Linked DNA regions of Homo sapiens: region 2 is linked to region 1. The links come from fine-mapping of genetic effects on gene expression. A gene starts in region 1. The other region holds a variant in brackets. All regions are shown on one strand. Distances are from middle to middle.

Region 1 (14,603 bases):
AGCCTGGGAGGAAGCCTTTGTGTACTCAGCCTCTTCTGCAGCGCACTCCTGGGTTGCAGGTGCTCCAACCTGCTCAGCCCCTTTGCTTAGTGAAGCCGCCCTATTCCTACTCAGTGCAGAAGCTTGGCTGCACACACACTCACACACACACCCCCCACACATACCCCCCCACACTCACACACACGCACACATACCCCCACACACACACCCCCTATACACACCCCCACATATACATATCCCCCCACACACATACCCCCCACCCCCCCACAAACATACCCCCCACACATACCCCCACACACATACCCACACACACACACACACCTCCCACACACCCCCTATACACACCCACACACACCCACACACTCACCCCCACACACATACCCCCTACACACATACCCCCACACTCTCACACACACACCCATACACATACACCCCACACACATACCCCCCACACTCACACACACATACCCCCATACACATACGCCCCACACACATACCCCCCACACTCACACACACACACCCCCCACACCCCCCATACCCCCCACAAAGATACCCCCACACACACAGCCCACACACACACCTCCCACACACCCCCTATACACACCCACACATACCCCCACACCCACTCACATACCCCACACACACACCCCATACACACACACCCCCCCACACACATACCCCCACATTCACTCCCACACACCCCCCCACATACTCCCCCACACTCACACACATACCCCCCCACACACATACCCCCACACCCACTCACATACCCCACACACACACCCCATACACACACACCCCCCCACACACATACCCCCACATTCACTCCCACACACCCCCCCACATACTCCCCCACACTCACACACATACCCCCCCACACACATACCCCCACACCCACTCACATACCCCACACACACACCCCATACACACACACCCCCCCACACACATACCCCCACATTCACTCCCACACACCCCCCCACATACTCCCCCACACTCACACACATACCCCCCACACACTCATGTACACCCCCCACACACAGCCCCCCACACACACCTCCACACACACACATACTGCTTCTCTCCATTACACACACAGACACACAGAGATGCACAGATACACACACACACACACACACACACACACACGGCCCAGCCCCCTGCTGCTCCTCCGGGTGTGGTCTCTGCTGTATCCCCCCAGCACCCCACTGCCAGTCCTGGAGCCCACCACTCTGCTCACTTATGAGCACTCTGCACTCAACTCCTGCCCACACCCAGTGGACTTCTGTGCCCCACACCCCCGACCTCCTGACCCCCCATCCTGATCCTCCTCCAGCTTCCCCTCAACTCAGCCTCTCTCGGGACACTCCCTCTGCACTTACCTCGGAATCCCCGCCCCTGGCTTTCCTGCACCCCTCCCGCCCCTGACTCCCCCACGTCCTCCCCACCCCCCGCACCCCCACCTGGGCTCTGTCATGCCTGTAGCTCCCTGCTCAGTGTCCTCAACTCTCCAATCCACCTGCTGCCTGTGACCTTACTGGGAAGGAGCTGAGCCATGGAGGAGCCCAGGGGCCCCCCTTGTACCTGCCCTGCCTCCAGCATGGCCCAGGAGCATCCCCAGCCCGGTGCCACCAGGAAGCCTTGCTCCCCAGGCCCCCTCGGAGCCCGCACCCAAGCCCCCTGCCAACAGGGGCCACTTCGCCTCCCTCCCCTCCCATCTCATCCTTGGCAGGGGCCCTTGCCTCACTCCCCTTACAGAGGAAGGGGGACAGAAGCCCACAGCGGTCTCCTAGGTGTCCTGCAAGAAACCCGCCCACTTGCTGCGGGGCGAGGCCCCAGGCTGCAGATCCTGGCGCCACAGGGTCCTGCCCTGGTGGTGATGCCCTCCCGACGCATCCTCCCCAGAGTCCACACCTGGATCCCCAGAACCTGCGAGTATGGACCTTCTGTGGCAAAGGGGACTTAGCAGGTTTGACTAACAGAAGGACCCGAGGTGGGAGATGGCCCCGGATGGCCCCGGATGACCCGGGGGGGCCCTAAATTGTGGTCACAAGGACCTCAGAAGAGGGAGCAGGAGGGTGGAGACGCGAGGACGGAGGCAGAGTCGGGGGAGGACGGAGGGGCGCTCTGCTGGCCTTGAAGGTGAGGAGGGGGCGGGGGCCGCCTCCGGAAGCTGGAGAAGACAAGGAATGGATCTTCCCCTGGAGCCCCCAGAAGGAGCCGCCCTGTGACCCTTGACCTTCACCCGGTGGGATGCGTTTTGGACACCCGTCCCCCAGGGCTGGAAGGCCATGGCCGTGCTGTTCCCAGCTGCTGGGTTGGCAGTGGTTTGTCTTGGCAGCCCTGGGGAGCTGACACTGGTGCTCTCACCCCACATGCCCTCTGGCCCCGCTACAGGGCATCTGCAGGGGCCTCTGCCACTATGCTCAGCAGGGTCTTTGAAGCCTCCACACTGCCAAAGCCAGAGGTGGCTTTTCAGAGCTCTCCACTGTGGCTCTCAGGCCACCTGGCCACACGGAGTCCTCTCATTCCCCCTCCTGGAGCCCCTCCCCAAATCAAGCTCCTCCTCCTCCTCCTGCACCTGCTTCCATGGGGAACGAAGCCATCCTCTGCACAGCCACCACTCTGGACAACAGCCAAAGGCCCTCGGACCAGTCTCCTCCTCCCCCGGCCCCAGGCAGCCACGGTGACCTCCCAGAGGGGCATCTGACCACCTGCCCTGCCCAACCCCTCCGAGACTTCCAGTGGCCCCAGGGGATGTGCCAAGCACAGGCCAAGGGAGCTGCCCCCAGGGCCACAACGCCTCTTCTGGCCTCGGTCTCCTCCTGCCAGGACAGCTTCCTTTCTCCTGCCTTGGATCTTCGGGTTTCTGGGGAGTGTCGTGTCCTCGGGGAGGCTGTCCTCTGCCTCTTGGCATGCCTGTCCTAACTTCTTGTGACATCAGGCCTGCCCCGAATCACCTGTTCGAGCCACCCCAGTGCACAGCAGGAACTGGTAAAGTGCCTGGGCTGCTTCTGCCTTTTCTCCCTTTCCATCTCGGAGGGACAGCAGGCCTCACTTGCCCTGTCCTCAGCTCCACGTGTGGGCAGTGGCCTTGTGGTCATAGACAGCATGGAATGTTCCTGAATAGCCTCAGTGACACTGGTTTTTCCTTTTTTTAAAAAAAAAAAAATTGAACCGAGCCAGGCATGGTAGTGTGAACCTGTAGTCCCAGCTACTCAGCAGGCCGAGGTGGGGGAATTGCTTGGGGCCAGGAGTTCAAGTCCAGCCTGAGCCACATCATGAGACCCTATCTCTAAATAAAATTTGTTTAAAATGGAACTGAAATTCACAGAACATTAAACACTTCACAGTGCACACTGAGCGGCATTCAGTACATTCATACTGCTGTGCGGCCACCAGCACTGCCTGCTTCCAGAATGCCTTCTTCACCCCAAACGGAAAGGAAAGCCGGCACCCATTAGTCAGCATTCTTCATTCTCCCGCCCTCAGCCCCACCAGTCCGCAGCTGCTTTTCCGTCTCATGGATTTACCTGTTCTGGACATTTTCTTTTTTCTTTCTTGCTTTTTGTCTCCCTCCCTCCCTTTCTCTGCCTTGCCTTGCCTTGCTTTGCCTTTGCCTTTGCCTTTGCCTTTCTTGATGGAGTCTTACTCTGTCACCCAGGCTGGAATGCAGTGTCAAGATCTCAGCTCACCGCAACCTCTCCCTCCCGTGTGCAAGCGATTCTCGTGCCTCAGCCTCCCGAGAAGCTGGGATTACAAGCACACACCACCACGGCTGGCTTTTAGTAGAGACAGGGTTTCACCATGTTGTCCAGGCTGGTCTCGAACTCTTGACATCACGTGATCTGCCTGCCTCGGCCTCCCAAAGTGCTGGGATTACAGGCATGAGCCACCGCGCCCGGCCTGGACATTTCATATACACAAAATCGCAGAGGACACGGCCTTTGTGTCTGGCTTCTTTTGCTGAGCATAGTGTCGCTGTCGCTTGTGTGGGAATTTCTCTCCTCATGGCTGAGTTGTGCTACCTTACACGTCTACACTGCATTTTCTGGATCCATTCACCTGGCAACGGATGCTTGGGTTGTTCTTCCCTTTGGCTGCTGTGAGGAAGCATCTGTCTGAGTGTCTGTTTTCAACTCCTTTGGGTGGATACCCAGGAAGACAGTTGCTGGACCACAGGGTAATTCTATGCTTAACTTTTTGAGGAGCCGCCAGGCTGCGTCCCACAGTGGGCTCCTTGCTGATATTTTCAGGCACTCAGCTCTGCAGTCTGCACTGCCAGACACCTGGACCCGAGTGAGTCTGAGGAGCACGGTGCTTTGAGGAGCTGCTGGCTCTCCCAGGGGCTCCTTGATGGGGCTCCTGTTGCCTCTGCCTGTCCCGGGGCTGCTGCTGCTGGAAGCTGAGACTCATCCTCATTTTCCATGCAACCACGGGCAGGAAGGAGCCTGCACGCGACATGCCAGGGTGCGCGCTTACCCTGGGCCCCTCGTGCACCGGAGGAAGAGGCCTGCCTGGCTGTGGGGTAGGGTGGGGCCAGCTTCTGGGCTGGGCGCTCTGGCTTCCGGGACACCAGGCGGAATGGCTAAAGCAGGGAGACACAGGCCCCTGTAGAGCTACTGGGGCGGTGACAGCTGGACTTGGATGCTGGCTTCATGACCGTGCTCCCCAGCGTTCCCACCTGGTGATGTCCCTCCCCTGGAATCTGCCGGAGGCCCAGGACTTTCTGACCCACAGGATGCCCCAGGAATGACACCATATGACATCTGAGGCCAGGTCACACAAAGCCTGGCAGCTTGGCCTGGCCTGGTGAACGTGCTCTGGAGGGAGCCAGCTGCCACGGGAGAATCCAACTACCCCGAGACCACCATGCTGCAGGGAAGCCCACGCCAGCCACATGGGAGGCCAGCCGGCCCTAGCTGTTCCAGCCACCCAACTGAGGGCGGGGGCGAAGAGGCCATCCTGGACGGTCCACCCCGTTTGGCCTTCAGACGACTCCAGCCCCAGCTGCCACCTGATTACAACTGCAGAGAGACCCCAAGACAGGGCTGCCTGGCTGAGCTGGGCAACCCACAGGCCAGGCGATAACGGGGTGCTTTAAGGCACTAAGCTTTGGAGGAGTGTTTTGTTACACGGCAATAGTTAACAGGGAACTGGGAGTCGATTTCAAGCTCACATGGCCAGTCCACCCTGAGCATGTCCCCTGGGCCATAGTTCAGAAAGCAGGTGCAGGTCAGGGTTCAGGGCCAGTGTGGGCCTCAATATTGTTTCCTGCCCCCGTGGAGGCCGTGGTGGCATTTGGAGGGGGTCCTTGGAATCCATGCCCAAGGAAGCACTGAAGCTGCCTGGGACCCTCCCACACCCAGGAAGGGCCGTCATCAAGGTAGGACTTGCAGGGGGAGGGAAGGGCAGCTGGCTTTTGAGTGGAGGAGGGACAGCTCCAGAGACAGCGTGGCAGCTCCCAGCCACCCTCGCCACCAGGAACCTCGAGGGGAGGCCCCCTCGGCCCAAGCTCTGGCCCCTCCAGCTCCCTACTCTCCTCTCCCCTAGCTTCCTTCCAGGGCCCTCTCTCTTTGGTCTCCTGTGATTTTCTTCCTGGGCCCACAGTCCCTCCCTCCCTGGGGGGCTGCCCCGCCCCCGGCCCCGCCCGCGGACCCCTGGAGTAACTTAATCTCGGGGTTGTGGTCCATCCCCAGAGTGGGGAGGCATCCGCTCGGCCCATCGCACCCCAAAGCTGCAGGCCCTTAGCTCCAACCACCGCCAGGCCCTCCCTCCCCCAGCCAAGAGGTCCCGAGTCCCACCCAAGCACTGTACCCCGGCCCGGCTGGCCCCGCCCGGCGGCCGGGGTCGACCCGGCCAGTCCTTCCCCCGGGCGACGCCCACGTGCCTGCGCGGCTTCCCTGGCACCGCGGCGACCAGCGCCCCGAGGCGCGCGGCACCCGACAGGTGGCACCTGCGAGCCCCGCCCACCTCGGCCGCCCCGCCCACCTCGGCCGCCCCGCCCCGCGCGCCCACGGAGCATGCTCAGAGCCGCGGTCACGCGCCCGCCCGAAGGCTCCTGTCGGGACAGGGCGCCGCCCCGTGTCGGCCCCCGCAGAGCTCGCGGCCCCCGCCTGTCCGGGCGCCGCCATGGAGCGCATCGAGGGGGCGTCCGTGGGCCGCTGCGCCGCCTCACCCTACCTGCGGCCGCTCACGCTGCATTACCGCCAGGTGAGCCCGCGCCCCCGCGTCCCCCGCGCCCCCGCCGGCGGCCCGGCCCACGACCCGCGCCCCGCCCACCATCTTCCGCGCTGCCGGCCCCGCCCCGGAGCCCCGCCCCCGCCTCCCGCCGATCTCCCGGGCGGCCGCTTGTCCGCCCGCCGGATCGCGGGTTCCCAGACCCAGTGAGCCCCCAGGCCGGGGAGGGGCCGCGGGAGGGACATCTGAGGGGGCACCACTCATCCTTTCAAGGAAGCATTGCTGGGCCCCATCCTTCCCGCCCGCCCAATCCGACCCTCTTGGCAGTGGAACTCCTTGGTTGCCCTGGGGATCAGGGAAGGCTTCCTGGAAGTGGTGGCTTTCATGCTACCACTTGAAGGAGGAGATAGCTGGGCCGAGGAGGAGGGAGCAAGGAGCGCAGAGGCCGGGCGCAGGGAGGTAGGAGAAGGAGCTGAGTGAGAACTTGAGAGAGCCTCTCAAAGCAGGCTTCCTCCTTGGGGTTTTTTCCAGGGAGGGCACCTCCTTGGAGTCTCCATCTGCCTAAGCTCAGCCTTCCCCACCTCCTAGGGTGTCACCTTCTCCCATGCCAGGCCACGGCACAAGAGGCTGTATTGCCTCACTTAGCACCAGGCACATGGTAGGTTCACAAGGAATATTTTGTTTTGTTTTGTTTTTGAGACAGGGTCTTGCTGTCGCCCAGGCTGGAGTGCAGTGGCATGGTCACAGCTCACTGCAGCCTCAACCTCCTGGGCTCAAGCGATCCTCCTGCCTCAGCCCCCGCCCCAGTAGCTGGGACCACAGGTGCACACCACCACACCTGGCTAATGTTTAAATTTTTTTGTAGAGACGACGTCTCACTGTTGCCCAGGCTGGTCTTGAACTTCTGGCCTCAACCGATCCTCCTGCCTTGGCTTCCCAAAGCATGGGGATTACAGGCATGAGGCATATGTGTTGGGTGAAGGAGCTGCTGCCATCCTTTTCCCACATCCAGTGGATCACTGAGTCCCGGGCCGTCTTCCTCCAAGCCCAGCCCTGTCCAGTTAGGGCCCCACCTTTTGCTTGCATGCCCACCTGCCCCCAGCAGATCTCCCCTCTGCCAGAGCTCCTTCATGCCATTAAGGCAAAGACCACCTTCCTGGTCACAGTCAGTCCAGCCCCCCAGCCTATCAGGTCAGGTGGTCCAGGTCGCAGTGCCTCTCTGCCTGCCTGCCTCCCTCCCTCAGGGGGCATCCTGTCCCCCCCATCACATCCAGGACTCTGCCCCTCGCCATCCTGGAGAAGCCCTCTTGGCCCCCAGCCTGAGAGAGGCCCTGTGCCCCTCACTTTCCCTGTTGCGGGAGTCCTGTTGGCGCTGGAGGACAGGGGATCCCTCTCCCCAAGGCGAAGCTAAGCTGGTGGTGCTGGCAGGGGGCAGCTGGGATCAGTCGGGGTACAGCAGGTGGAGACATGGGGTCACTGCCCTTTTCCCTGACGTTGGCCATATGGGATGCCTGCTTGTGGCTGCACAGTCCCCACAGGGCTGGGTCTCAGGCAGCAGGTGCAGGCCCAGGCAGGTGCCCTCTGTGGCCCTGGTGGCAGCACTCTCTCCCTCACTCCCCGTGAAGCCTCAGGGCAGCCCTTGCAGCCTCAGCGGGCAGCCCGCCGGCACAGCTCTGCTGAAGGGTTCTGGTGACCAGAGCTGAGCTGGTTCGGGCTGTGGCTGTGGTGGACACGGATGTAGGCTCGGGCTGGGCGGCATCTCCTCAGGGCCAAGGGACATTGGGCTGGACGCTGGCTGCCACCCAGGGGCAGCTGCAGCCCTCAGCTTTTTGCTGCGTCCAGCCAGGGGAGGCCTGTGATGTCAGGCAGACCAAAGGCAGGGGACCCCCGTGGCTCCGAGGCGATGGGGTCTTCTTTGCACCCAGCCCTGCCCCTCCCTCCCAGGCCTCAGCAGCCTCCCTAAACCTCCCTGCACCTTGACCTGGCTGGACCTAAGGGTCTGACACGCTTTTGACCTTGAGCTGAGAGGGTCCTTGAGACCTGCATGGGGTGATGTTACTCGGGGGGAAGCAGTGGTGGGGAAGGGGCATGGGCACAGCAGGCACATGGCAGGCTGTGGGCAGGGGGCTTCCCTGGAGCCTGCCCTGGCTGGGTGGTGGTTCGGGGGTGGCTGGGTGTCAGGCAGGCCTGGGGTCGCCTCCCGGGAGTGGTACCCCACGGCCTCTCGGGCTGCCTGACCTGCGCGGGACGCCGGCCCTCCCTTCCCTTGGAAACCGGTACTCTCCTCCCAGGACGCCTTTGCCTCCCGGCCAAGCTCAGAGGGCCTCTGCGCCTCTGCCTGCCCAGAGTCCCTTCCCTCACTTCCGTCACCTCCTCCAGAAAGTCCTCAGGAAGGCTTCTTCTCTCTTCTGCAGTCCTGGCTGCACTTCTGTGTCTCTGCTGCTCAGACCTCTTGTCCATTTCACAGCCCTGGGCAGAGCCCCCGGTGGGGGATGAGCAGCTGGCCTGGGCCTCAGAGTGGCAGATGGGCTGAGCGTGCCGGAGATGGGACCCCGCGGGACCCCAGGCTCAGCCCCCAGGATGGGAGTGCATCTCAGAATGCATCAGTTCCAGCCTCCCCCAGCAGGCCCAGCCCACACACCTGCCCACCCTGCCTCCTCCGTTCACTGAGTGCCACCCAGGGTGCAGGGGCCTGCCAGGGTGGTGTGCCCAGTGTGGGGGAGTGGGAAGGTGGAGGGTGGCCACAGGAGAACGGGACCACAGGGTATGTGGGAGAGTCGAGGCCAGAAACTGGGGGTAGGGGTGTGTGGGGGGGCTGCCGAGCCTGGTCACCATCATGACAGTCACCGAGTCCTGCAGTGCGATCTCCTACCTGGCTGGGGCGCCACCCTTCCTCATCTGCTCCTGGTGCCAGCCCCTCCTGCCACCCTTCCCCATCCACTCCTGGTGCCGGCCCCTCCTGCCCTCCCGTCTCCACCTGTTCAGTGGCCCAAGGAAGCATCAGCAGGAAAACCTGACCTCTCCTCTGCCTGCAGGGCCCTCCTGCCCTGCTGTGAGGGAGTCACGCCTGCCCTCCCCGAGCCTCCATGAGCCTTCCTATACTTGGTGACGGTGTACGTCTCTCTGCAGCCCCTTGTGCTCGGTCTGTGCTGGGCAGTGTTTCATGAGGTGCCTGGACACCTTCCCTGCCCTTTGCCCTGGTCTTCTGCCTCACTCGTAGGGTATTAGGCTGTCCTTGACCTCCCTGCCCCTCCCAGGCTGCTTGCTCCTCTGCCCACGGGAGCTGCAGTTCCTGGCTCCCGTGGGCCCAGGCCACGAGCCGATCTCCCTGGTTAGGAGTGGGTGCAATGGGTCTGTGGCCTCCTCGGTTCCCCGAGCACCTCCGCCCATCCTGGGACATTCTAACCGCTGACCTGCCCCTTCTAGAATGGTGCCCAGAAGTCCTGGGACTTCATGAAGACGCATGACAGGTGAGAGCCTGGCCCAGCCTGGCCACTGGGGAAGCCCCAGACTGATGTCTACGGGGACACTGGGCCCAGGGCGAAGGTGCCCTCTCCTCCCTGACGTTGCTGTTCCCTGCGTGGGCTCCAAAAGTCCCTTCTCTCTGCCCGGCCTCTGGGTTTCCTATCCCTGAGGGGTCAGCCTGAGGCCTGGGGGCTGAGTCAGGTCTTTGCTCAGGCCACCGGGACCATGATGGTGGGCAGGCCCTCTCAGGGCAGGGAGAGGCTGTCCTGGAGCCTTTGCCCCTAGCATCCAGGGTCTGGGCTGGATGGCGACGTGGCTCGAGGAGTGTGGCTGGTGGGCAGCTGCTCAGTGAGGGCCAAACGTCCTGTCAGTCACCCGGCCTCAGCTGCGAGCACCCTGACCTACTCAGCTGCCCGTGTGTCCTTCCCTGCCCCCCGCCTCCCATCCTGCCAGCTGGAATACAGCAGGTCTGGGTCCTGGCCAGACTGTGACCCTGGAAAGCTCTGGTCCCGCCTGGGCCTCAGCCATCCTATCTGAGCAAGGGGCCTGACCTCCCTGGGCTGCTGGCAAGGAGGTGGGATGGCCACGCTGGGAACAGAAAGATGGGAGGTGGGGCCCCACGAGGGCCAGTGGAGTGCTTCTGTGCTGAGCCCCTCCCCCCGTACACAGCGTGACCGTTCTCTTATTCAACTCTTCTCGGAGGAGCCTGGTGTTGGTGAAGCAGTTCCGGCCAGGTGAGGCCAGCTGGGGTGGGAAGGGGATCTGCAGGGTCACCTTCAGGTCCCTGTGGTCCTGAGGGTCTGAATACAGATGTGGGAGGGGGCTCCAGGGGAAGCTGAGGCCCTGGGAGGGGGCTTGGCTGTGTGGGTGACCTGGAGGTGGCCACCACGTGGCTGTGAGCACAGTCTGGCTTCTTCCCACGCAGCTGTGTATGCGGGTGAGGTGGAGCGCCGCTTCCCAGGGTCCCTAGCAGCTGTAGACCAGGACGGGCCTCGGGAGCTACAGCCAGCCCTGCCCGGCTCAGCGGGGGTGACAGTTGAGCTGTGTGCCGGCCTCGTGGACCAGCCTGGGCTCTCGCTGGAGGAAGTGGCTTGCAAGGAGGCTTGGGAGGAGTGTGGCTACCACTTGGCCCCCTCTGATCTGCGCCGGGTCGCCACATACTGGTGAGTGGGACCAGGCCCTCAGGCCTGTGGTGTGACTCAGGAGATGGGAGAGAGTGAGGGCCCCGTCCCTGGGAGTGTGCAAGCAGGATGGATTCCTCCTTGTTTTCCAACATGGGATTAGGGGAGGGTTGGACCGAATGCGCCTCAGCTCCTAAGCCAGGCCAGAATCTGGGCTCTTGGGGCTCTCTCTGCAGCGTCTCGGCCCCATGCCCCCAGCCTGCGGCCCCCAGCTGTGTGAGGCAGGCCGGGTGACAGCTGCTGCTGACAGGTGCCTCTACTTCCTGTAGGATTAAGACCGGGCGCTGGGGGTGGGGGTGACTCACAGCTCTGTTCTCAGAGGGTGGCTTAGGAATGAGGGAGAAGCTGTGTCCTGGGCTGGAGAAGGGGTGGCTCCAGCTCTCCTGGGGAACAGGCACTAGAGCCTGCGCTTTGGGACCTGACCCACCAAACTCGAGGCACCAACTCTTGCCCCGCGAGGGCTGCCAGCTGGGGTGGGGTTGCCTTCCCAGGACTAGATGTTGGTATGAAGCCCATCCACTTCCCCAGGGACGCTACGATGGGCTCCTGACCCCAGCTGAGGTCTTGGGGAAGGAGGAGGGTGTCACAGACCCCCACCCCCACCAGCTGAGCACCAGCCTCCACAGCCTCCTCCAGAGGCCAGGGCCCGCTCCACTGGGAGAAGCACCGGAAGTCTCTGCACCTGTCAGCCTGGCACATGGGCCACTCAGGGTTGAGCCTGGGGCCCTCCCACCTCAGCAGCCTCAAGGACTTCACCTGGGCACGTTCCTGGCTGGATGGGTGGACTCCCAAGTTAAAGGCAGCATTTCCACGCTGGGCCAGGCACGGTGGCTCACGCCTGTAATCCCAGCACTTTGGGAGGCCGAGGCAGGCGGATCACCTGAGGTCAGGAGTTCGAGACCAGCCTGACCACATGGAGAAACCCCGCCTCTGCTAAAAGTACAAAATTAGCCAGGCGTGGTGGCAGGAGCCTGTAATTCCAGCTACTCAGGAGACTGAGGCAGGAGAATCGCTTGAACCCAGGAGGCGGAGGTTGCGGTGAGCCTGAACCCAGGAGGCGGAGGTTGCGGTGAGCCGAGATCGCGCCATTGCACTCTAGCCTGGGCAACAAGAGCGAAACTCTGTCTCAACAAAACAGAATTTCCATGCCGAAGGGTGGACTTGGGTGTGAAGGATGGGCCTTGGTTTTCTGCAGGTGTCTACCCCGTGGTGGGCCACGCCCACTGTGCCCCCAGCTCCCCAGCCCATAGTACTGAGCACAGCCGGGAGGCATGGGAGGGGCTGGAGTCCCCTTGGTCCCCCTGGAGGAGGTGGGCCTGGGCAGGTTCCTGGCAGAGGGACCGCACAGGCTCTCAGGGCAAGTGGTCAAGCAGCCCTGGCCGCGGTGGTTCTACTGGTACAGCCTCTGGGCCACAGCCTGATTGTGAGGGTGCTGGGGAGCCAAGGAGGGCTCTGGGAAGTAGGCATCCTGCTTAGACTCGCATCGGGAAGAGCAGGCCGTGGCTTCAGGGATGCAGGACTGGAGATGCTGCTGACTAGGGGTCAGGGTGTCCGTCTCTGAGGGCCTGATGGGGGGCTGGACTGACAGCAAAGTTCACCCACCCTGTGGCAGGGCCCGTGGCTCCCTGTCTCTGATTCTGGAGGTGAGCCAGGCCTCTTACCTGCCGCTGCAAAGGACAAGGCCCAGGGAGGCAGTCAGCTTGGGGCGTGATGGAGTGAAGTTGGAACGTGCCCTGGGGTGGGGGAGGCGTTGCCCAGCCTGGCTGGCAGATTCCTCTCAGCCCGGGCCAAGGGCCGGGCCTGTCTCCTTCACAAGCCGGCGGAAACCGGGGCTGGAAACCCCAGACCCGCCACTTCCCTCAGAGGCGCAGCCGCGGCCGCCGCCGGAAATGGGCCATCAGGAAGGGGTCTGCGGGAGGTGAGGGGCTAGAGGGCAAGGAAGCAGCTGGGTAAGGTCGGTCTGGGGTGAGTCCCCCCGGAGGTGGGGAGGCCTTGGGGGTGGGGCATGGAAGCCCCCAGTTCTGTCCCTGCCCCTGTATGTTGGGTACATCTCAGAGGGCGGCCTCTACCCTGCAGGCCTCCGGCTGGCCTTGGTTCATGGCACCCGACAGCCCCTCCTGCGGCGAGCCAGGGCTCCCCCACCCCCTGGTCATCTTCCCAGATGCCCCTCAGTCCCGTTTCTCCCCAGATCCACACCTGGCCCTCCCCCTCCTGTTCCAGAATGCAGCCCAGCCCCTCTGCCATCCTGTCCTCCTAGCCCGTGGTCTCCCTCCACACACGCCAGTCCAGGCTCCTTCCCTTGGTGCCTGACCCCTCCTGGCTGCCAGCAGCCCCCTTCTGGCCACTGCCCACTGAGGGAGGGGGCTTCCTCTTACCCCTCCCCAGCCTGGGCCACTGGGCCTGGTACTGAGGACCTCGCTGCCACCCCACCCCACTCTGCCATGCTACGGGGGGTGGGGGGGCGGTCAGTGCATGCTGTTCCTAGTCTGAAACTTGTGTCCTGTGGGTGCCTGGTGGGGAACCCTTGCGGGAAGGCCTGGTGGGTTTGTCCCTGCTTCCCAGCCAGCCTGTGTCCCCGGGTATGGGCTGGGGTCTGGCATGGGCCTCTGCAGCTGGCCACAGACTGAGGGGCTCCAAACAGCACTGGGAACAGCCTCAGGGTATCTGGTTGGGGGCTGCAGACAGGGGTGGGGTCTTCTGCTTGGCCTTGACAGGTTGCAGGCAGGTTGTCAGCCGGATCTGCAATCTCATGGGGGCTTGGGGTCTTCCCGGCTCACGAGGTTATGGCAGAATTCAGCTCCTGGTGGCTGGGGACTGGGTCCCACCTCCCTGCTGGCTGTTGGCCCTTCCCAGCATGGCGGTTGCTTCCCCTTCAGGGCCAGCAGGACTGGCCTGAATTTCTCCCTTTCTGGCGTTGAAACACCCTCTGGAGGGCTTCGTGATCGGGCCATGCCCGCCTAGGATGCTCTCCCTTCTGATGAGCTCAAGTCACCGGTTAGGGTCCTTAATCACATCGACAACACCCACCCCACCTGGCGAGTACAACGTGATCAGGGAAGGGATGCCCTGCTGCGGGAGGGGCCACGGGCGTGCACACCAGGTGGGAATCCGGGTGGGAGAGGGCATCCCAGAGTCCTGCCTACTGGAGGGCTGGAGGGAGCAGAGTGGAGAGGGTGGGTTGGAGGGTGGTAGAAGGGCCAGGGGGCCAGCGGGGCCAGCGTGGGTGACTCAGCAGACCCTGTCTCAACCCGTAGGTCTGGAGTGGGACTGACTGGCTCCAGACAGACCATGTTCTACACAGAGGTGACAGATGCCCAGCGTAGCGGTCCAGGTGGGGGCCTGGTGGAGGAGGGTGAGCTCATTGAGGTGGTGCACCTGCCCCTGGAAGGCGCCCAGGCCTTTGCAGACGACCCGGACATCCCCAAGACCCTCGGCGTCATCTTTGGTGTCTCATGGTTCCTCAGCCAGGTGGCCCCCAACCTGGATCTCCAGTGAGACTCCAGGGTTCTAGACAGAGGCCAGTCTTGGCCACTCACCCCACACCCCGCGGACCCCAATAAAGGCTTGCATAGCTCCAGCTTCTGCCTGCTGGTTCTGAGCTCTGTGACCAGGGCCTTGGAGAGGACTGGGGAAGGGGCGGGAAGCAGTGACCCTGACCTGAGATGGCCCTCGGGACACGGCGAGCTCTCCTGTAGGAGGAGTAGCTGGTGGCAGGCCATGCAGGTGGTTGCTGTGGGGCTGAGGACAGGCCTGGGGATGCCATGGGCAGGGCCAGGCTGT
Region 2 (14,603 bases), 27 kb after region 1:
CCCGTTGGCCTGGCCTTATTGGAACAACAGCCCCTGCCCCCTGTTGCTTTCCCCGAGCCCCGCTGGCTATAGGTTGCCGTCCTTGGTGGCAGAGGCATGCCTGCTGTACACTTGATGTGAACGAAGGAAGGAAGGAACGAAGGAAGGAGCCAAATGCCAGACGCCTGGGAAGCGGCTGGGTGCTCCAGGTGTTACCGGGGGTGGGGAAGGGCTTGGCCAGGTGCAGCTGCGAGGGTGGTGCTCCAGGCAGATGGGTTGATAGGCTGGGGTGGGTGGGTGGGGGTGGGCAGGAGCCTTGGGAACCCCAAGGGTGCTCTGAGCTGAGAGGGCGTGGACAGAGTCCTGGTGGGGGTGTGGATGGAGCCCTGGGGGGTGTGGATGGAGCTGACGGGGGTGGTTTGTGGACAGAGCCCTTGGGGGGTGTGGACACAGTCCTGGGGGTGGTGTGGACAGAGTCCTGGGGGGTGTGGATGGAGCCCTGGGGGGGTATGGATGGAGCATGTTGGGGGGTGTGGATGGAGCTCTGGGGGGGTATGGATGGAGCCCTGGGGGGGTGTGGATGGAGCATGTTGGGGGGGGTGGACAGAGCTCTGGGGGGGGTGTGGACGGAGCCCTGTTGGGGGGTGTGGATGGAGCATGTTGGGGTGTGTGGATGGAGCATGTTGGGGGGTGTGGATGGAACTCGGGGGGTGTGGATGGAGCTCTGGGGGGTATGGATGGAGCCCTGGGGGGTGTGGATGGAGCATGTTGGGGGGTGTGGACAGAGCTCTGGGGGGGGGTGTGGACGGAGCATGTTGGGGTGTGTGGATGGAACTCTGGGGGGGTGTGGATGGAGCCCTGGGGGGGTGTGGATGGAGCTCTGGGGGGGTGTGGATGGAGCATGTTGCGGGGTGTGGATGGAGCCCTGGGGAGGTGATGGAGCCTGTTGGGGGGTGTGGATGGAACCCCGTTGGGGGATGTGGATTGAGTTCTTTGGGGGTGTGGATGGAGCTCTGGGGGGTGTAAACAGAGCTCGGCGGGGGGTGTGGACGGAGCCTTGGGAGGCATGTGGATGGAACTCTGGGGATTGTCTGGCGCCTGTAGGCAGAGGTTTGCGGGCCCTGGTGACCTCAGGGAGCCCTGGAGATGGGCGGGGACTGGGCCCCGTGGCCTGGCGGGGCCATGGCGGATGTGGGAAAACGGGTTTAAGGGGAGCTTAAGAGGTGGGATTGAGGGTCTGTTGTCAGCTCGACGTGGCTAGGGAGGGTTCTAGGAGCGGGTTGGGGATGGCCCCCCACTTCCATCCTGTGCTCCTACCTGGGTGAGCCTCCTCGGGCCGTCCCCGGGTGTTCTGCAGGCAGGGGCTCGGGGGCGGGGCCGGGGTTGCCCAGCTGTGAGTGAGGCCCAGGGTCAGCAGTCATGTTGGGCCCTAGTTGTCTGTATTTGAGGGACAGTCGGAGGTGTGGGGCGGGGGACTGGGTGGGGGTCCTGGAGGCTGGGCTGGGTGTGGCTGGTAGCACGTTGGTTAGGGGAGGGGCTGGACGTGGGAGTGCAGTCTTCTGAGACATCTTGGGAGGCCAGGCCTGTCCTTAGCTGGATGAGGCCGAGGCACTGGGACGTGCGTGGGGTGGGCGGCGGGTGAGGACCAGGGAAGGGCTGGCAGGCGTGGGGTTGGGCCTTGCTGGGGAAGTGTGGTTTTCCCCAGCTTAGCCAGGCCTTGGGGCTGGTTGGATGGGGTGTGCTGAGGGATGGAGTGAGCCTGGCCTGCCTGGACACTGCCCAACGCAGCATCCCCCCGGGGTGGGAAGCCAGCAGGCCCTGAGGTGACTCAGCCCCAGCCCCCTCCTCTGGGCCCCACCTGGAAGGAGCCAGGGCTGGGCTCAGGGGTCAAGAGCACACCAGGGGTAGACTGGGGGGTTCCTGGGCAGTGAGGGCTGAGAGGCTGTGGAATGTGGGTACCCAGTGCTGGGTAGTACAGGGCATGTCCCGGGGGTCCCACCTGTCTGAGCATGTCTGTGAGTGACGGTCTCCGTGGGCTGCACTAGGCGGAGCAGGGGGCCAGCCCTGTGGTCTCTTTGCTTGGCTGACAGCATCGCCTGTCGCCATGGCTGGGGTACAAGGGCCAGGTGGCCCGGGGGCAGAGGGGGCATAGTGGCCATGGTCTGAGGCTGTGCTGGGCAGTCCCAGGACCTCTTGGCCTCAGTTTCCCCAACTGTACCGCAAGGGCCCCTCCTGCCACCTGTTCTGTGTGAGGGTGGAGGTAGGTGTGGGTTTGCCTGTGTGCTGTATGCCTGCAGGACCTGAGCTCCGGCCTGTTGGGGCCTCTGGCTGGGCGCCCTGTACTTGGCCACCCCGTGCACTTGGTGGAGGCCGCCAGCGTGGTGATGGGGCCCCACGTTCTCCCCCGTGGTCACCCCCAGTGAGGCACCAAGGGGCGTTCCACAGGAAACGCTCGGGTCCCGGCTGCCCATGGGGCCCCTGTCTGTGGCCACTCCAGCCAGGCTGCCCTTTGCCCACCTCTCCCCCCGGTCGCTCTTCCTGTGCTCCGTGCTGACTTGAGCCAGCTCAGGGCAGGCTGGGCCTCTGGCACCCCAACGGTAGGGAGCCCAGGCCCCTGAGCCCGCGTGGCCTGGAGGGGCAGTCTCCCTCCCTTGAGCTGGGTCATTTTTGGGTCTGCAGAGGATGTGGCCTGAGGATGAGGAGGGTGGTGGGTCCCTGGCTGGGGAGGAAGGGCCAGAGCCTGGCAGACCCAGGGGCAGCGTCTGAGCCCTGGGCCTTGTCCCACCCTGAACGAGGCAGGCAGGTGTGGCCTCAGGTACCTGACCCGCCTCCCCATGTCTGCAGCGCTCCTTTACCCTCATCGTGGAGGCCTGGGACTGGGACAACGATACCACCCCGAATGGTGAGTGAGCCCTGGGCCAGGTGGCAGCTCCTCTCAGCTTCAGCGTGCCTGTGGCAGGGCCCAGCTCCTCTGTCTGCTTGGGACAAAGCCTTGCTTTACCCTGAGGATCATGTGTGCTGTTTCCCTTTTTGCTTTGGCTGCCAGGAAGCTCTGCCACGTTTGGGACTTGCAGAGCTGTGCATGCACTCTCTTCCCCAGTCCTGGCTTTGCCTATGTTGTTCTCCTCTTGGGTGTGCTCTTTTGGGGCCCATGGCAGTGACTTAGTGGAGGGGACACCCTTGAGTGTGTCTCTGGCTTTGTGGCCCCCTCTGCTTGTCTGTACTGGAGCATGGAGCCTTGGTGGCCCTCTCCCTGAGGCAGGGGCTCTGCAGGGCCCTGCAGGGGTAACGGGATGACTTCCATGGGTGAATGCAGAAGCACCCACAGGCCAAGGGAGCAGCTCGTGTGAAGGTCTGGGCAGGAGCGGGCTGGCTGTGCAGGGGGAGCAGCCGGGGCTGGGCTCAGATCATGGAGGCTGGCAAGCCACTGAGAGGACACGGGCTCCGCCTGGCAAGCTGTGGCTGCCTTATGGAGGGTGGGCTGTGGGGCCAGGACACAGACCGAGGAGGAGCTGCCACGTGAATCTGGGCGTGTCAGGGTGACTTGGACCAGGGGCAGTCTGGGGGTGAGAGGGGCTCTCAGAAGTGGAGGCATGGGGTTGGCCAATGGGTTGGAGGAGGGAGAGCGGGGCCAGGGCATCCTGGCTGCCAGCAGAGTGGAGGGGCTGTTTTCAGGGCAGGGACGGCGGTGGGGGTGCCCAGGTGGGGAGCAGCAGTTGTGGGGACCCCAGCGGCTCAGGGCAGGGGTGTTTCCTGAGGGGGTGGCAGAGAGACAGGTGGGCTGAGTCCCAAGCAAGGTCGTCAGGGCTCTTGACAACGTGAGCCTGGAGAGGCTGGGGCGGCCGGGACGCCCCTTGGGGAGTGGGCCAGCACAGTGTCCTCCCAGGCCTTGGCCCGAGGCGGGAGAGGTGGGGTCTGGAGGACCCGTTCACCTTTTATTGTGCAAAACGTCGAGCCTGTGCCTAAGCGCAGGGACCGGCATCACGGACTTTGCATACCAGCGCCAGCAGCTGTGGTGCCCCTGGCCCCTGGTCTCCTGGTGGCTTACTTAAAGTGAGGCTTAGACAGCGGGTCACGGGACCTATGCCTGTCTTGGGGGCCTGAGGGGAGGCTTGTCTTAAGGTGGGGACGGTAGTGGTGTTTGGCACTTCTGGGAGCAAGTCACAGCGCAGGAGAGGGGAGGGCAACTGAGCACCATGTCCGTGCTGTCGAGGGCTGGACACGGCGCAGGTGGGTGCAGGTGTTGGAGCAGGGCTGCAGGTGGGTGGGCACAGGTGTGGGACGTGAGACTCACGCCCTGGCAGCAGCCGTGCCTTCTCTGTGGAGCCTGTGGTCTCAGCAGCCCTCCCTGCAGGGCCCCTAGCCCCTAGCCGGGCCCCCCGACCCTCTGCGTTTAGGGTGGGAGCGGGGCGCAGGCTTGGTGGCGGGAGGGAGAGGCCTCTCGGGGCCCTGAGCTTTCTGTAGCAGCCTGGCCGGGGGCCCTGCCCTCCGTGTGCTGCTGCCTGCTGTGCCCCGGCCTTGCAGCAGCCGCAGGCTTCTGCCCCGTCCCCGTTGTTCCTGGAGGACCCCTGGCCGGGCTGGTTTCTCTGGCCTGTGCTGACTCTGCCGCCTCCCCAAGAGGAGCTGCTGATCGAGCGAGTGTCGCATGCCGGCATGATCAACCCGGAGGACCGCTGGAAGAGCCTGCACTTCAGCGGCCACGTGGCGCACCTGGAGCTGCAGATCCGCGTGCGCTGCGACGAGAACTACTACAGCGCCACTTGCAACAAGTTCTGCCGGCCCCGCAACGACTTTTTCGGCCACTACACCTGCGACCAGTACGGCAACAAGGCCTGCATGGACGGCTGGATGGGCAAGGAGTGCAAGGAAGGTGAGGGGGCCGCTGGGCTGCGTGGAGGGCAGGGAGGGCCTCGGGCAGGGCCCCGGGCACAGGCCTTGCGGCCAGGCTGGCTGCAGCTGTGCCTCTCGCTCCTCTCTGTTCGCAGCTGTGTGTAAACAAGGGTGTAATTTGCTCCACGGGGGATGCACCGTGCCTGGGGAGTGCAGGTGAGTGTGCCGCCGGCCCGTCTTTGCCCTCCCAACCTTTGCCCTCACGTCCTCACTGGCACACACAGCCTTGCTGTCAGGAGTCGCCCGGAGCTGGCTGGAGGTTGGGCACACAGCTGTGAGAGCCGGGCCCTGAGCTCGGGAGGCTCCTTAGTGCAGTAGGTGCGTGTCTGAGCATGGGATGTGTCTGATGGCGGCAGCCATGTGAGGACAGTGAGGAGAGACTGGGGAGGCTGGCTGGACAGTCACGTCACCGAGGGGCAGAGACCCGGAGGCTGCAAGCCACCCAGAGATGGGGCATGGGCAGAGGACACGGTAACCCTGCCCATGGGGAGGGGGTGGGCGGCGAGCGGCCGGCAAGTGACACCAGCAGGCGAGGGGCGGCAGAGCAGACCAGTGGTGGGAGCTGAGGCCTGCAGGACCAGGGACAGAGGAAGGGGCTGCTGGCAGGTTTGTAGCTGGGCAAGGTGGGTGGAAGGGCTGTGGTAGCTGTTGAGTGGGGAAGCACCAGACGGGAGGCTGTGAGGGGGAGGCCGCTGTGGGGCATGTGGGGGTGGTGGGGGAGGGGCCAGCGGGATGGGGAGGGGGTCAGTGGAAGGGGGAGAGGCGCACGGGTCCTGCAGACATCCTGGGGTGGAGCCCAGGGGTTTGTGGATGGATTTGATCAAGCAGGAAGGGTGTGGAGTCAGGGAGAACCCCAAGCTGCTGAGTAGCAGAGCCATGGTGGCAGGAGGAATGCCACAGAGGAGCAGGCGGGGCCGGGGTTAGCTGGATGTGGAGAGGCGATGCCTGCCCTGTCCCTGGAGACACCCAGAAAGCTCGTGGGAGAGGCCTGGCCTGCGCCACGCGGGGCCTGTGGGGGGTGGCATTCAGGCGGTGACGGGAAAGTGGGGAAGGCAGAGAGGAGGGAGGCCAAGGAGCAAGTCCCGGCTGCCACAGGTCAGGGCGGATGGATGAGGAGTCAGCAAGGGCCTCCACAAGGGAGTGTCCGGGGTCTTACAGCCAAGTCCAGATGGTGGAGGCCTCTGGACCCAGACCAGAGTGTGGGGGATCCAGCCAGGGGGGCTGGCAGCTTTGCCCTAGAGTGGAGCAGAGAAGTCAGCAGGGCAACCAGAGGGGCTGGGGCCCAGGGTCTGGGGTGGGCACGGGCTTCGAGCCGTGGCGCTCACTGTGCGTGAGCAAGCTGGGGAGCCCGAGAGAGGGGCGCGAGCGGGTGGAGAGACAGCAGGTGGAGGTGAGCACCGCCCTCCAGCCAGCCTTGGATTGCAGGGGTCCCAGGACCTCCCTCTGTGGAGTGGGTTTGCCTCCATGGGACGAGGACACTGGGGCACAGAGAGCCTACTGATTTCCCCAGGGTCACACAGCGTGGCGTTTTGGAGAGGAGTCGGGGAGTTTGGGAACCAGCTGAGTTGGGAGCCAAGGTGGGGAGGTGGGTGACCCTTCCACAGGCCCCACGGTTGAGTGGCCTGGAGGGTACAGTGAGGAGCTTTCCCGGCCAGTCCCAGAGCGGGGAGGCAAGCAGGGCTGGGGCCGCCCACCCGGTCACTTGCACACACAGGGATTCCCGGCAGGTTGAGCGAGTCCCAAGTCAGCTCAGAAAGTGCAACAAGGTGGACCTGGTCTGGGCAGATGTAGATGTAGATCTACGGGAGTCGGCCCCACTCACCCTCGCCTGGCCCAGTGTGCATCACACAACCTGGATGGCAGTGCCACCCTCCCTG[G/A]ATGGCTGCTGGCTGGCAGCTTGAATGTCACACCAAGGCTGGAGGAAGGCAGCAGAGAAGTTGGCCATCCCTGCCCTTTACCCGCAGGAAGATGAGCCGGAGTCTGGGGGGCCTGGTGGGTGGGGGCAGTAGGTGAGCTCCGCCTGCCCCTCTTGCTGGCCCTGTCGGGGAGGCCCAGCTGTTGCTGACAGCCTCGGCTCAGGTTCCAGTGCAGGACGCCCCCCCACCGGATGCTGCGGAGATGGCCATGCCTTCCTGCCGCCGCCTCTCCAGGGCCCTGGGGCTGCTGGCTGGGGAAACCAGGAGGTGGGGGCCTGGTGTGGGCTGCCCTGCCCAGGGTCGAGAGCACGCCCTTGGGACCCACGAGGTCTGGGCTCTGAGCCCGGCTGTGGCCGCTCTCTGGCCGATGACCCAAGGTGTGTCACAGCCCCGCCCTGAGCCTGGGTCTCTGTGTCTGTGGAGGAGGGATTCTAGGCGGGATGTGAGGCCACCCACGCGGACCACTGTGCATGCTGGGCTGGATACTGGAGACACGTTCTTCCCGGCCTCAGTTTCCCCATTTGTGGCAGCTGAACTGGGCTGATAGGCCTTCGGTGCTGGCTGTGTGGCTTGAGGGCGGCTCAGGAAGGGCCGTGGTTCTTTCCTTTTACAAAAATAAAGTGTGGCGGGTGCCGGTGTGGAAGTGACGTGGCCTGGATGACATTCCCGTCCTGCAGGACCGGAGAGTTCTAGGAAGGGCCCCCCGGGAGTCCCGGCAGGGCCTGGATGGCAGCCTGCTGAGCCTTGGGGTCGTTGCAGGCTCTCTCCCCTGACGGAGGCACCCTCAAGTCAGGCCATGTTCTACCCTGGCCACCTGCCCTCTCCTGGGGGACTCCCAAGACAGGACGTTGGCCGATAGCCTGGGGCAGGGCGAGTCCTGGTGGTTGTGTCCTGGGGGGTGCAGCTGGGGGTGCAGCTGGAGCTCCTGCAGAATCAGGAACTACCCTGGGCAGGGCTGGCCCAGGCCAGCCTGTGGGCCTCAGTAGCCCCATCTGTGAGATGGGTACCTTGTGGGACTTTACTGGGAGCGAGCGAAATGACTGCCTTTGAGGTGGGGGCGAGGGCACGTGCTGTGCCCAGGGCCACATGGCCGAGGCAGAGCCAGGAGTGCTCCCCTGCTGCCCGCTGGCCTACCCAGCCCCTGGTGCCTCCCGGCCCTGGCAGCACCTTGTGAGTCCGAGCCGGCATTCTCATCCCCGGGGTCCCGGCAGGGCCTTCCTTTCCTGGTGCCTGCTCTCGGGGCCCAGCTCACGGGTGAATCCCAAAATAGCTCAGGGAGGAGTGACGGGACAGCTGGGGCTGACCGTCGGCAGCCAGCGGCCGGGAATGCCCGTGACAGTGGGGCTGGCCGGCAGGGCTGCAACCCCTGCCTGGCTGGGGCTGCTCCAGTTCAAAGGCCTGAGGCCGCCCGCCGGCCCTGGGTGTGGCGTGGGTGACTGTGCCTGGCTCCCCTGCCACCCTTTCAGGCACCACAGCTCACTGGGTCTTGCGCCCCTCCTCCTTCCCCCAGGTGCAGCTACGGCTGGCAAGGGAGGTTCTGCGATGAGTGTGTCCCCTACCCCGGCTGCGTGCATGGCAGTTGTGTGGAGCCCTGGCAGTGCAACTGTGAGACCAACTGGGGCGGCCTGCTCTGTGACAAAGGTAGTGGTAGGGGGCGGCAGGCCTAATGCTCTGCCATCGAAGTGTGGGTTGTGGGGGAGCGGGGGGCCGGCTTTTCCCCTGAGCATCCCACCCCTGCCCCCAGACCTGAACTACTGTGGCAGCCACCACCCCTGCACCAACGGAGGCACGTGCATCAACGCCGAGCCTGACCAGTACCGCTGCACCTGCCCTGACGGCTACTCGGGCAGGAACTGTGAGAAGGGTACGTGGGGGGCTGGCCACCCAAATTCTGGCCAGGCAGGGACTGGTTCCCTGGGGAGCCGGTCAGGCCCCATCCCTCTGGCGTCCTGTGTGGTGGGCCCCTGACCCCCAGCTTGGGAACCTGTGGGCTTGGGGAGGAGTGCTTGTGGAAAGCTGGGGGCCTGGCTGCCAGCTCTGCCCCCTCCCCGCGGTTCTACAGCTGAGCACGCCTGCACCTCCAACCCGTGTGCCAACGGGGGCTCTTGCCATGAGGTGCCGTCCGGCTTCGAATGCCACTGCCCATCGGGCTGGAGCGGGCCCACCTGTGCCCTTGGTGAGTGTCTGCACGTGAGTAGGGGACTCCTGCCTAGTATCAGTGGGGGTCTGGGAGTGGGGCAACTCGCTGGGGATGGGGTGCAGTGGTCAAGTCCACACGTGTGGCTGCGGCTGGCTTGGCGAGGACAAATGGCAGGAAGACCCAGGCTTGCAGCGCCACCTGCCCATGGGGACCTTATTCCCACGGCTCACACTGCCAGGGCCCCACCTTTCTCCACCCTCTGCAGACATCGATGAGTGTGCTTCGAACCCGTGTGCGGCCGGTGGCACCTGTGTGGACCAGGTGGACGGCTTTGAGTGCATCTGCCCCGAGCAGTGGGTGGGGGCCACCTGCCAGCTGGGTAAGGGCTCCGAGCGAGTGCATGGGAACGTGGGCCGCGCATGCGGGCTGCGGGGGCTGCTGGGGCTGCGGGGGCTGCTGGGGCTGCTGGGGCTGCTGGGCTGCGGGTGCCAGGTGCCCGTGCTGCAGGGGGCAGGCAGGGCCCGAGCCCCACGGCTCCCACCTTGTCTCTTTCACAGACGCCAATGAGTGTGAAGGGAAGCCATGCCTTAACGCTTTTTCTTGCAAAAACCTGATTGGCGGCTATTACTGTGATTGCATCCCGGGCTGGAAGGGCATCAACTGCCATATCAGTCAGTATGGGGGGTGGGCGCCGGCGGGTGGGCCGAGGCACATGGGACCCCGCCTCTGACCCTGCTCCTCTGCCCCCAGACGTCAACGACTGTCGCGGGCAGTGTCAGCATGGGGGCACCTGCAAGGTGAGGCGGGGCCAGGAGGGTGTGTGGCGTGGGTGCTGCGGGGCCGTCAGGGTGCCTGCGGGACGCTCACCTGGCTGGCCCGCCCAGGACCTGGTGAACGGGTACCAGTGTGTGTGCCCACGGGGCTTCGGAGGCCGGCATTGCGAGCTGGAACGAGACGAGTGTGCCAGCAGCCCCTGCCACAGCGGCGGCCTCTGCGAGGACCTGGCCGACGGCTTCCACTGCCACTGCCCCCAGGGCTTCTCCGGGCCTCTCTGTGAGGTGAGGTCTGCCTGGTCACCCTGCCCCACCTGCTGCTCTGGGAGCTGTAGGGCAGGCCTCGTCCCCTGACCATGGGGCCTGAGTGACCCAGGGGTGCTGCAGGGGAAGTTGTCCCCAAGGCGTCCCAGGCTCAGCTCTCCACTGGGTGCCAGGTGGGCAGGCGGGGCTGTCACAGGTCACCAGGCTTGGCCCCCTGTGGCCATTGCTTGTTGTGATGGGTTTCCTGGTGGCCTGGGCTAGGAGCCCCCGGGCTGCTGGCTGCCCAGGCCTATCTGTCCATCTGTGCACTCCCTCGGGACTGGAGGGCAGGGGGCTCTGGTGGGCAGAGCACATGGGGTAGGGTGGGTGCCTGATGGTGGAGAGGTATACACCTGTCATAGGTGAGTCCTGGGTCGGAGTGGGCATCTCTCTCAGGGCTGATGCTCTCGCCTCCCTCTGACCATCTGTTGGTACTGGACCCCCTCCCCCAACCTCCCCTTCCCCCCTGCCTCCAAAGTAACCTGCCTTCCCCCTTCCCCACCACCCCTACCACCCCCTTCCCCACCTCCCCCTTCCCCACCTCCCCCAACCCTGCCTCCCCCCACCCACCTCACTATCACCCCTCCCCTACCTCCCCCAACCCTGCCTCCCCCCACCCACCTCCCTACCACCCCCTTCCCCACCTCCCCCAACCCTGCCTCCCCCCACCCACCTCCCTACCACCCCCTTCCCCACCTCCCCCAACCCTGCCTCCCCATTACCTGCCTCCCTACCACCCCCTCCCCTTACTTCCCCTTTTTCCCTGCCTCCCCCCACCCACCTCCCTACCACCCTCGGCCGCCCACGATCCTGCCCTGGCCTTGGTGCAGAGGATGGGCCTCCTGTCCAGAGGGCTTCTTGGGGCCCAGGGCAGGGGTCTGACCTCAGGACCTGCAAGCATGGCAGTGGCTGGCCCTGGAAAAGACCCACAGTCTTGGCTCTGAGGGTGGCCAGGCAGTGTGTGAGGGGCTCAGGAGCTGTCCTTCCTGCCAGCAGCAGGGGCCAAGGCCACACTCCTCCCGAGGGACAGTGAGGAAGCTGGGCTGCAGTGGAGGTGGGGGTGGGGGCCCACAGGTATCTGCGTTCAGCTAAGGCCTGGGCAGTCTCAGGTGGGCAGGGGTCTTGGGCTCTGGCTGGCACTGTTAGGCCCAGGGCGGAGGGGCCTGGGGGTCCCCAGGGATCTACCTTCGTATGGACAGAGGCCTGGCCTGTGTTCCCGGCCTGGGCCTGGGCCTAGGCTCTCACAGGCACCCCCCACCCTGCAGGTGGATGTCGACCTTTGTGAGCCAAGCCCCTGCCGGAACGGCGCTCGCTGCTATAACCTGGAGGGTGACTATTACTGCGCCTGCCCTGATGACTTTGGTGGCAAGAACTGCTCCGTGCCCCGCGAGCCGTGCCCTGGCGGGGCCTGCAGAGGTGCTGGGTGCGGCATGGGGTGGTGGGGGAGGTGGTGGGGCAGGGGCGGGCCTGACTCCTGACTGTACTGCCTGCCATAGTGATCGATGGCTGCGGGTCAGACGCGGGGCCTGGGATGCCTGGCACAGCAGCCTCCGGCGTGTGTGGCCCCCATGGACGCTGCGTCAGCCAGCCAGGGGGCAACTTTTCCTGCATCTGTGACAGTGGCTTTACTGGCACCTACTGCCATGAGAGTGAGTGGCCACGAACGGCGGGCTGGTGGTGGGGCTGGGCTGGCCTGAGGCCCTGGCTCACCCCGCTCGCCTCTGCAGACATTGACGACTGCCTGGGCCAGCCCTGCCGCAATGGGGGCACATGCATCGATGAGGTGGACGCCTTCCGCTGCTTCTGCCCCAGCGGCTGGGAGGGCGAGCTCTGCGACACCAGTGAGTGTTCCAGCACCCGCCCACACGGCCTGTGCCTCCACCCCTGTGGGCCCCTTATCACCCTGAGATGGACCGCTGTCTGGGTGCGGCAGGCCCCGTACCCAGAAAGGCCTGGCCAGGGGGTGCTGCCACCATGGGGTGGAGTCCCAGGCTGCCCCCATGCCCGAGGCCAGCTCCCCCGGCCCGACGCTCCTCCCCCGCCCCTCTCTGTCCTCACCTGGCCCAGCTCCAGTGCTTCCTCCCCCGGGAAGCCCTCCCTGAGCGCCGGTGACCCCCCGCCCGCTGACCGGCGTCCTCGCCCCCAGATCCCAACGACTGCCTTCCCGATCCCTGCCACAGCCGCGGCCGCTGCTACGACCTGGTCAATGACTTCTACTGTGCGTGCGACGACGGCTGGAAGGGCAAGACCTGCCACTCACGTGAGTGTCCGCAGGCCCTGGCCGCCTGGGGCTGCCCCCAGGACCCTGGCCCTGGCGGTCTGGGGCCTGCCTGCTGAGCGGCCCATGTGCCAACAGGCGAGTTCCAGTGCGATGCCTACACCTGCAGCAACGGTGGCACCTGCTACGACAGCGGCGACACCTTCCGCTGCGCCTGCCCCCCCGGCTGGAAGGGCAGCACCTGCGCCGTCGGTGAGGAGCCCCCGCTGCCTCTGCGACCGCCGGGCATATGCCCTCCCAGGCACCGCTCCCTCGGGCGCGATGGGCCGAGGGGTCTTTTTTGAGGGCCACACCTGCCACCTGCCCCCTGCCCCCTGCCCCCGGGTCTGTCTGCCCTGTCTGGGTTGGGGGCGCGGTATGGAGACCCAGGGCCAGCCCAGGGCCAGGTGAGACGCTCCCTCCTCCTCCTCTCCTTACAGCCAAGAACAGCAGCTGCCTGCCCAACCCCTGTGTGAATGGTGGCACCTGCGTGGGCAGCGGGGCCTCCTTCTCCTGCATCTGCCGGGACGGCTGGGAGGGTCGTACTTGCACTCACAGTGAGTGTGGGAGGGGTGTGGGCGGGGGCCGCTTTCCTCCACCCAGATGACATCCCTGCCCCCGACTCGCCCCCCAGTCCCTTCTGCCAGCCCCTCCCCCTGCTGCCCCTGCCCCCAGCAAAAGGCACCCTCCTTGATGACCCTCCCCAGCCCCACAGCCTGATCACGCCAAGCCAGCCTGGACAGTGCCTGGCACGCTTGGGGGGTGGGTACTGATCCCCTGCGTTCTCTTCTCCCAAACCAGATACCAACGACTGCAACCCTCTGCCTTGGTGAGTGGCACCCTGGGGGCCACAGCAGGGGTGGGTGGGACTTGGCATACCACGGGGGGCCACCTGATGCCCACCCTCTGCTCTGCAGCTACAATGGTGGCATCTGTGTTGACGGCGTCAACTGGTTCCGCTGCGAGTGTGCACCTGGCTTCGCGGGGCCTGACTGCCGCATCAGTGAGTGGCCAGACAGCCCCAGCCCTGGGAGCCCCTCAGCCCAGCCGCGGTGTCAGGAGTCTGGGGACATCAACGTCCACGTCCCTTGAAGGGCAGTGTGGCCACAACTACTTCCTGCCTCTCTTCTGAGCCTCAGTTTCCCCACATGTCTGTGCCCTGTGGGGTTCCTGCTGTATACCCTGCCAAGTGATTAAGTGGGGAGCCCCAGCCTGGGGGACCAGTCCGGGGCCCAGGGAGCTGTGGGGGTTGGAGCGTGCAGCCTGACGTGGGCTCCTCTGTGGCCGCAGGGCTGTTGTCCCTGGGTGTTGGCCCAGCTGTCTGTCCAGCACCCCTTGGCTGGTCCGACGCAGCAGCTGGGGCTAATCCAGGATGGGACAGGCCCACTGCAGAAGCAGACGGAGGAGGGTGCTGTTGGGCCAGGGTCAGGCTGGGCTCAGGAAGGCCTCAGGCAGGCAGCAGCTTGGGCTCGGGGGCAGGGGCTGCTCCTCATTGTCCTGGGGCTTGCGCCTGTGTGCCACTGGCTCCCCGCTGCCCTAGGCCATGCCGGTCCTGCGGTGGGCGTTGGCCTCACTGCACTGAGCAGCGGTGGCTCTCCCTGCAGACATCGACGAGTGCCAGTCCTCGCCCTGTGCCTACGGGGCCACGTGTGTGGATGAGATCAACGGGTATCGCTGTAGCTGCCCACCCGGCCGAGCCGGCCCCCGGTGCCAGGAAGGTAGGCCCCGTGTGATTGCCCTGGGTTGGGGCGGGTTGGGGGGCATGGGTGACACCCAGCCCCGAGGGCCAGATGCCCACTGCTGACCCTCGAGCCCCTTCTCCCCACAGTGATCGGGTTCGGGAGATCCTGCTGGTCCCGGGGCACTCCGTTCCCACACGGAAGCTCCTGGGTGGAAGACTGCAACAGCTGCCGCTGCCTGGATGGCCGCCGTGACTGCAGCAAGGTGAGGGCAGCCCGTGAGCCGCCCTGCCCTACCCGAGGCTGGTGCACGCTGACCCTGGCCACTCTGTGAGATCAGGAGGCGGGTGCTGGGGTCCGGATGGACTGAGAGCCGTCTGCCCTCAGGGACACCCAGGGAGGCGAGAGCTCAGCCAGGCCCCATGCTTCGATGTGCAGTTGGGAAAACAGGCCTGGTCTGGGTCCTGCCTTGCTCCGCCTGCCCTTTCTGATGTCGAGCTTGGCCTGCCTCCCTGGGAGCCCTGGGTAGGGGGTGGGCTGGGCCCTGGGGCTCACAGACTTGGGCGGTGTCCCTCCTTGGCATGGGGCCCGTGCCTGCCTGTGGGTTCTCATCTGTGTGCCTGCATCTGACCCTCCTGTGCGCCTGCGCCTGACCCTCCTGTGCGT

The links.
Region 2: its variant is fine-mapped to the expression of NUDT14 in whole blood (INTERVAL, PIP above 0.99). The same link has a PIP of 0.9 or more in skeletal muscle.

The regions. Positions count from the first base shown.
Region 1 is chr14:105,172,736-105,187,338 of GRCh38, reverse strand. NUDT14 (nudix hydrolase 14) reads left to right here and starts at 6,027. Exons shown (of 5, transcript NM_177533.5): 1 at 6,027-6,210; 2 at 9,604-9,647; 3 at 10,312-10,376; 4 at 10,568-10,805; 5 at 14,078-14,400. The coding sequence starts at 6,130. The coding sequence ends at 14,318. RefSeq lists a silencer at 5,858-6,327.
Region 2 is chr14:105,145,984-105,160,586 of GRCh38, reverse strand. It overlaps JAG2 (jagged canonical Notch ligand 2), which reads left to right. Exons shown (of 26, transcript NM_002226.5): 3 at 2,824-2,881; 4 at 4,598-4,849; 5 at 4,965-5,025; 6 at 8,296-8,426; 7 at 8,530-8,649; 8 at 8,848-8,961; 9 at 9,191-9,304; 10 at 9,483-9,596; 11 at 9,676-9,722; 12 at 9,810-9,983; 13 at 11,267-11,417; 14 at 11,498-11,650; 15 at 11,729-11,842; 16 at 12,148-12,261; 6 more. It overlaps MIR6765 (microRNA 6765), which reads left to right and starts at 9,723; the gene lies at 9,723-9,809. RefSeq lists an enhancer at 4,998-5,596. The variant G/A (reference allele first, on the strand shown) is at 6,747.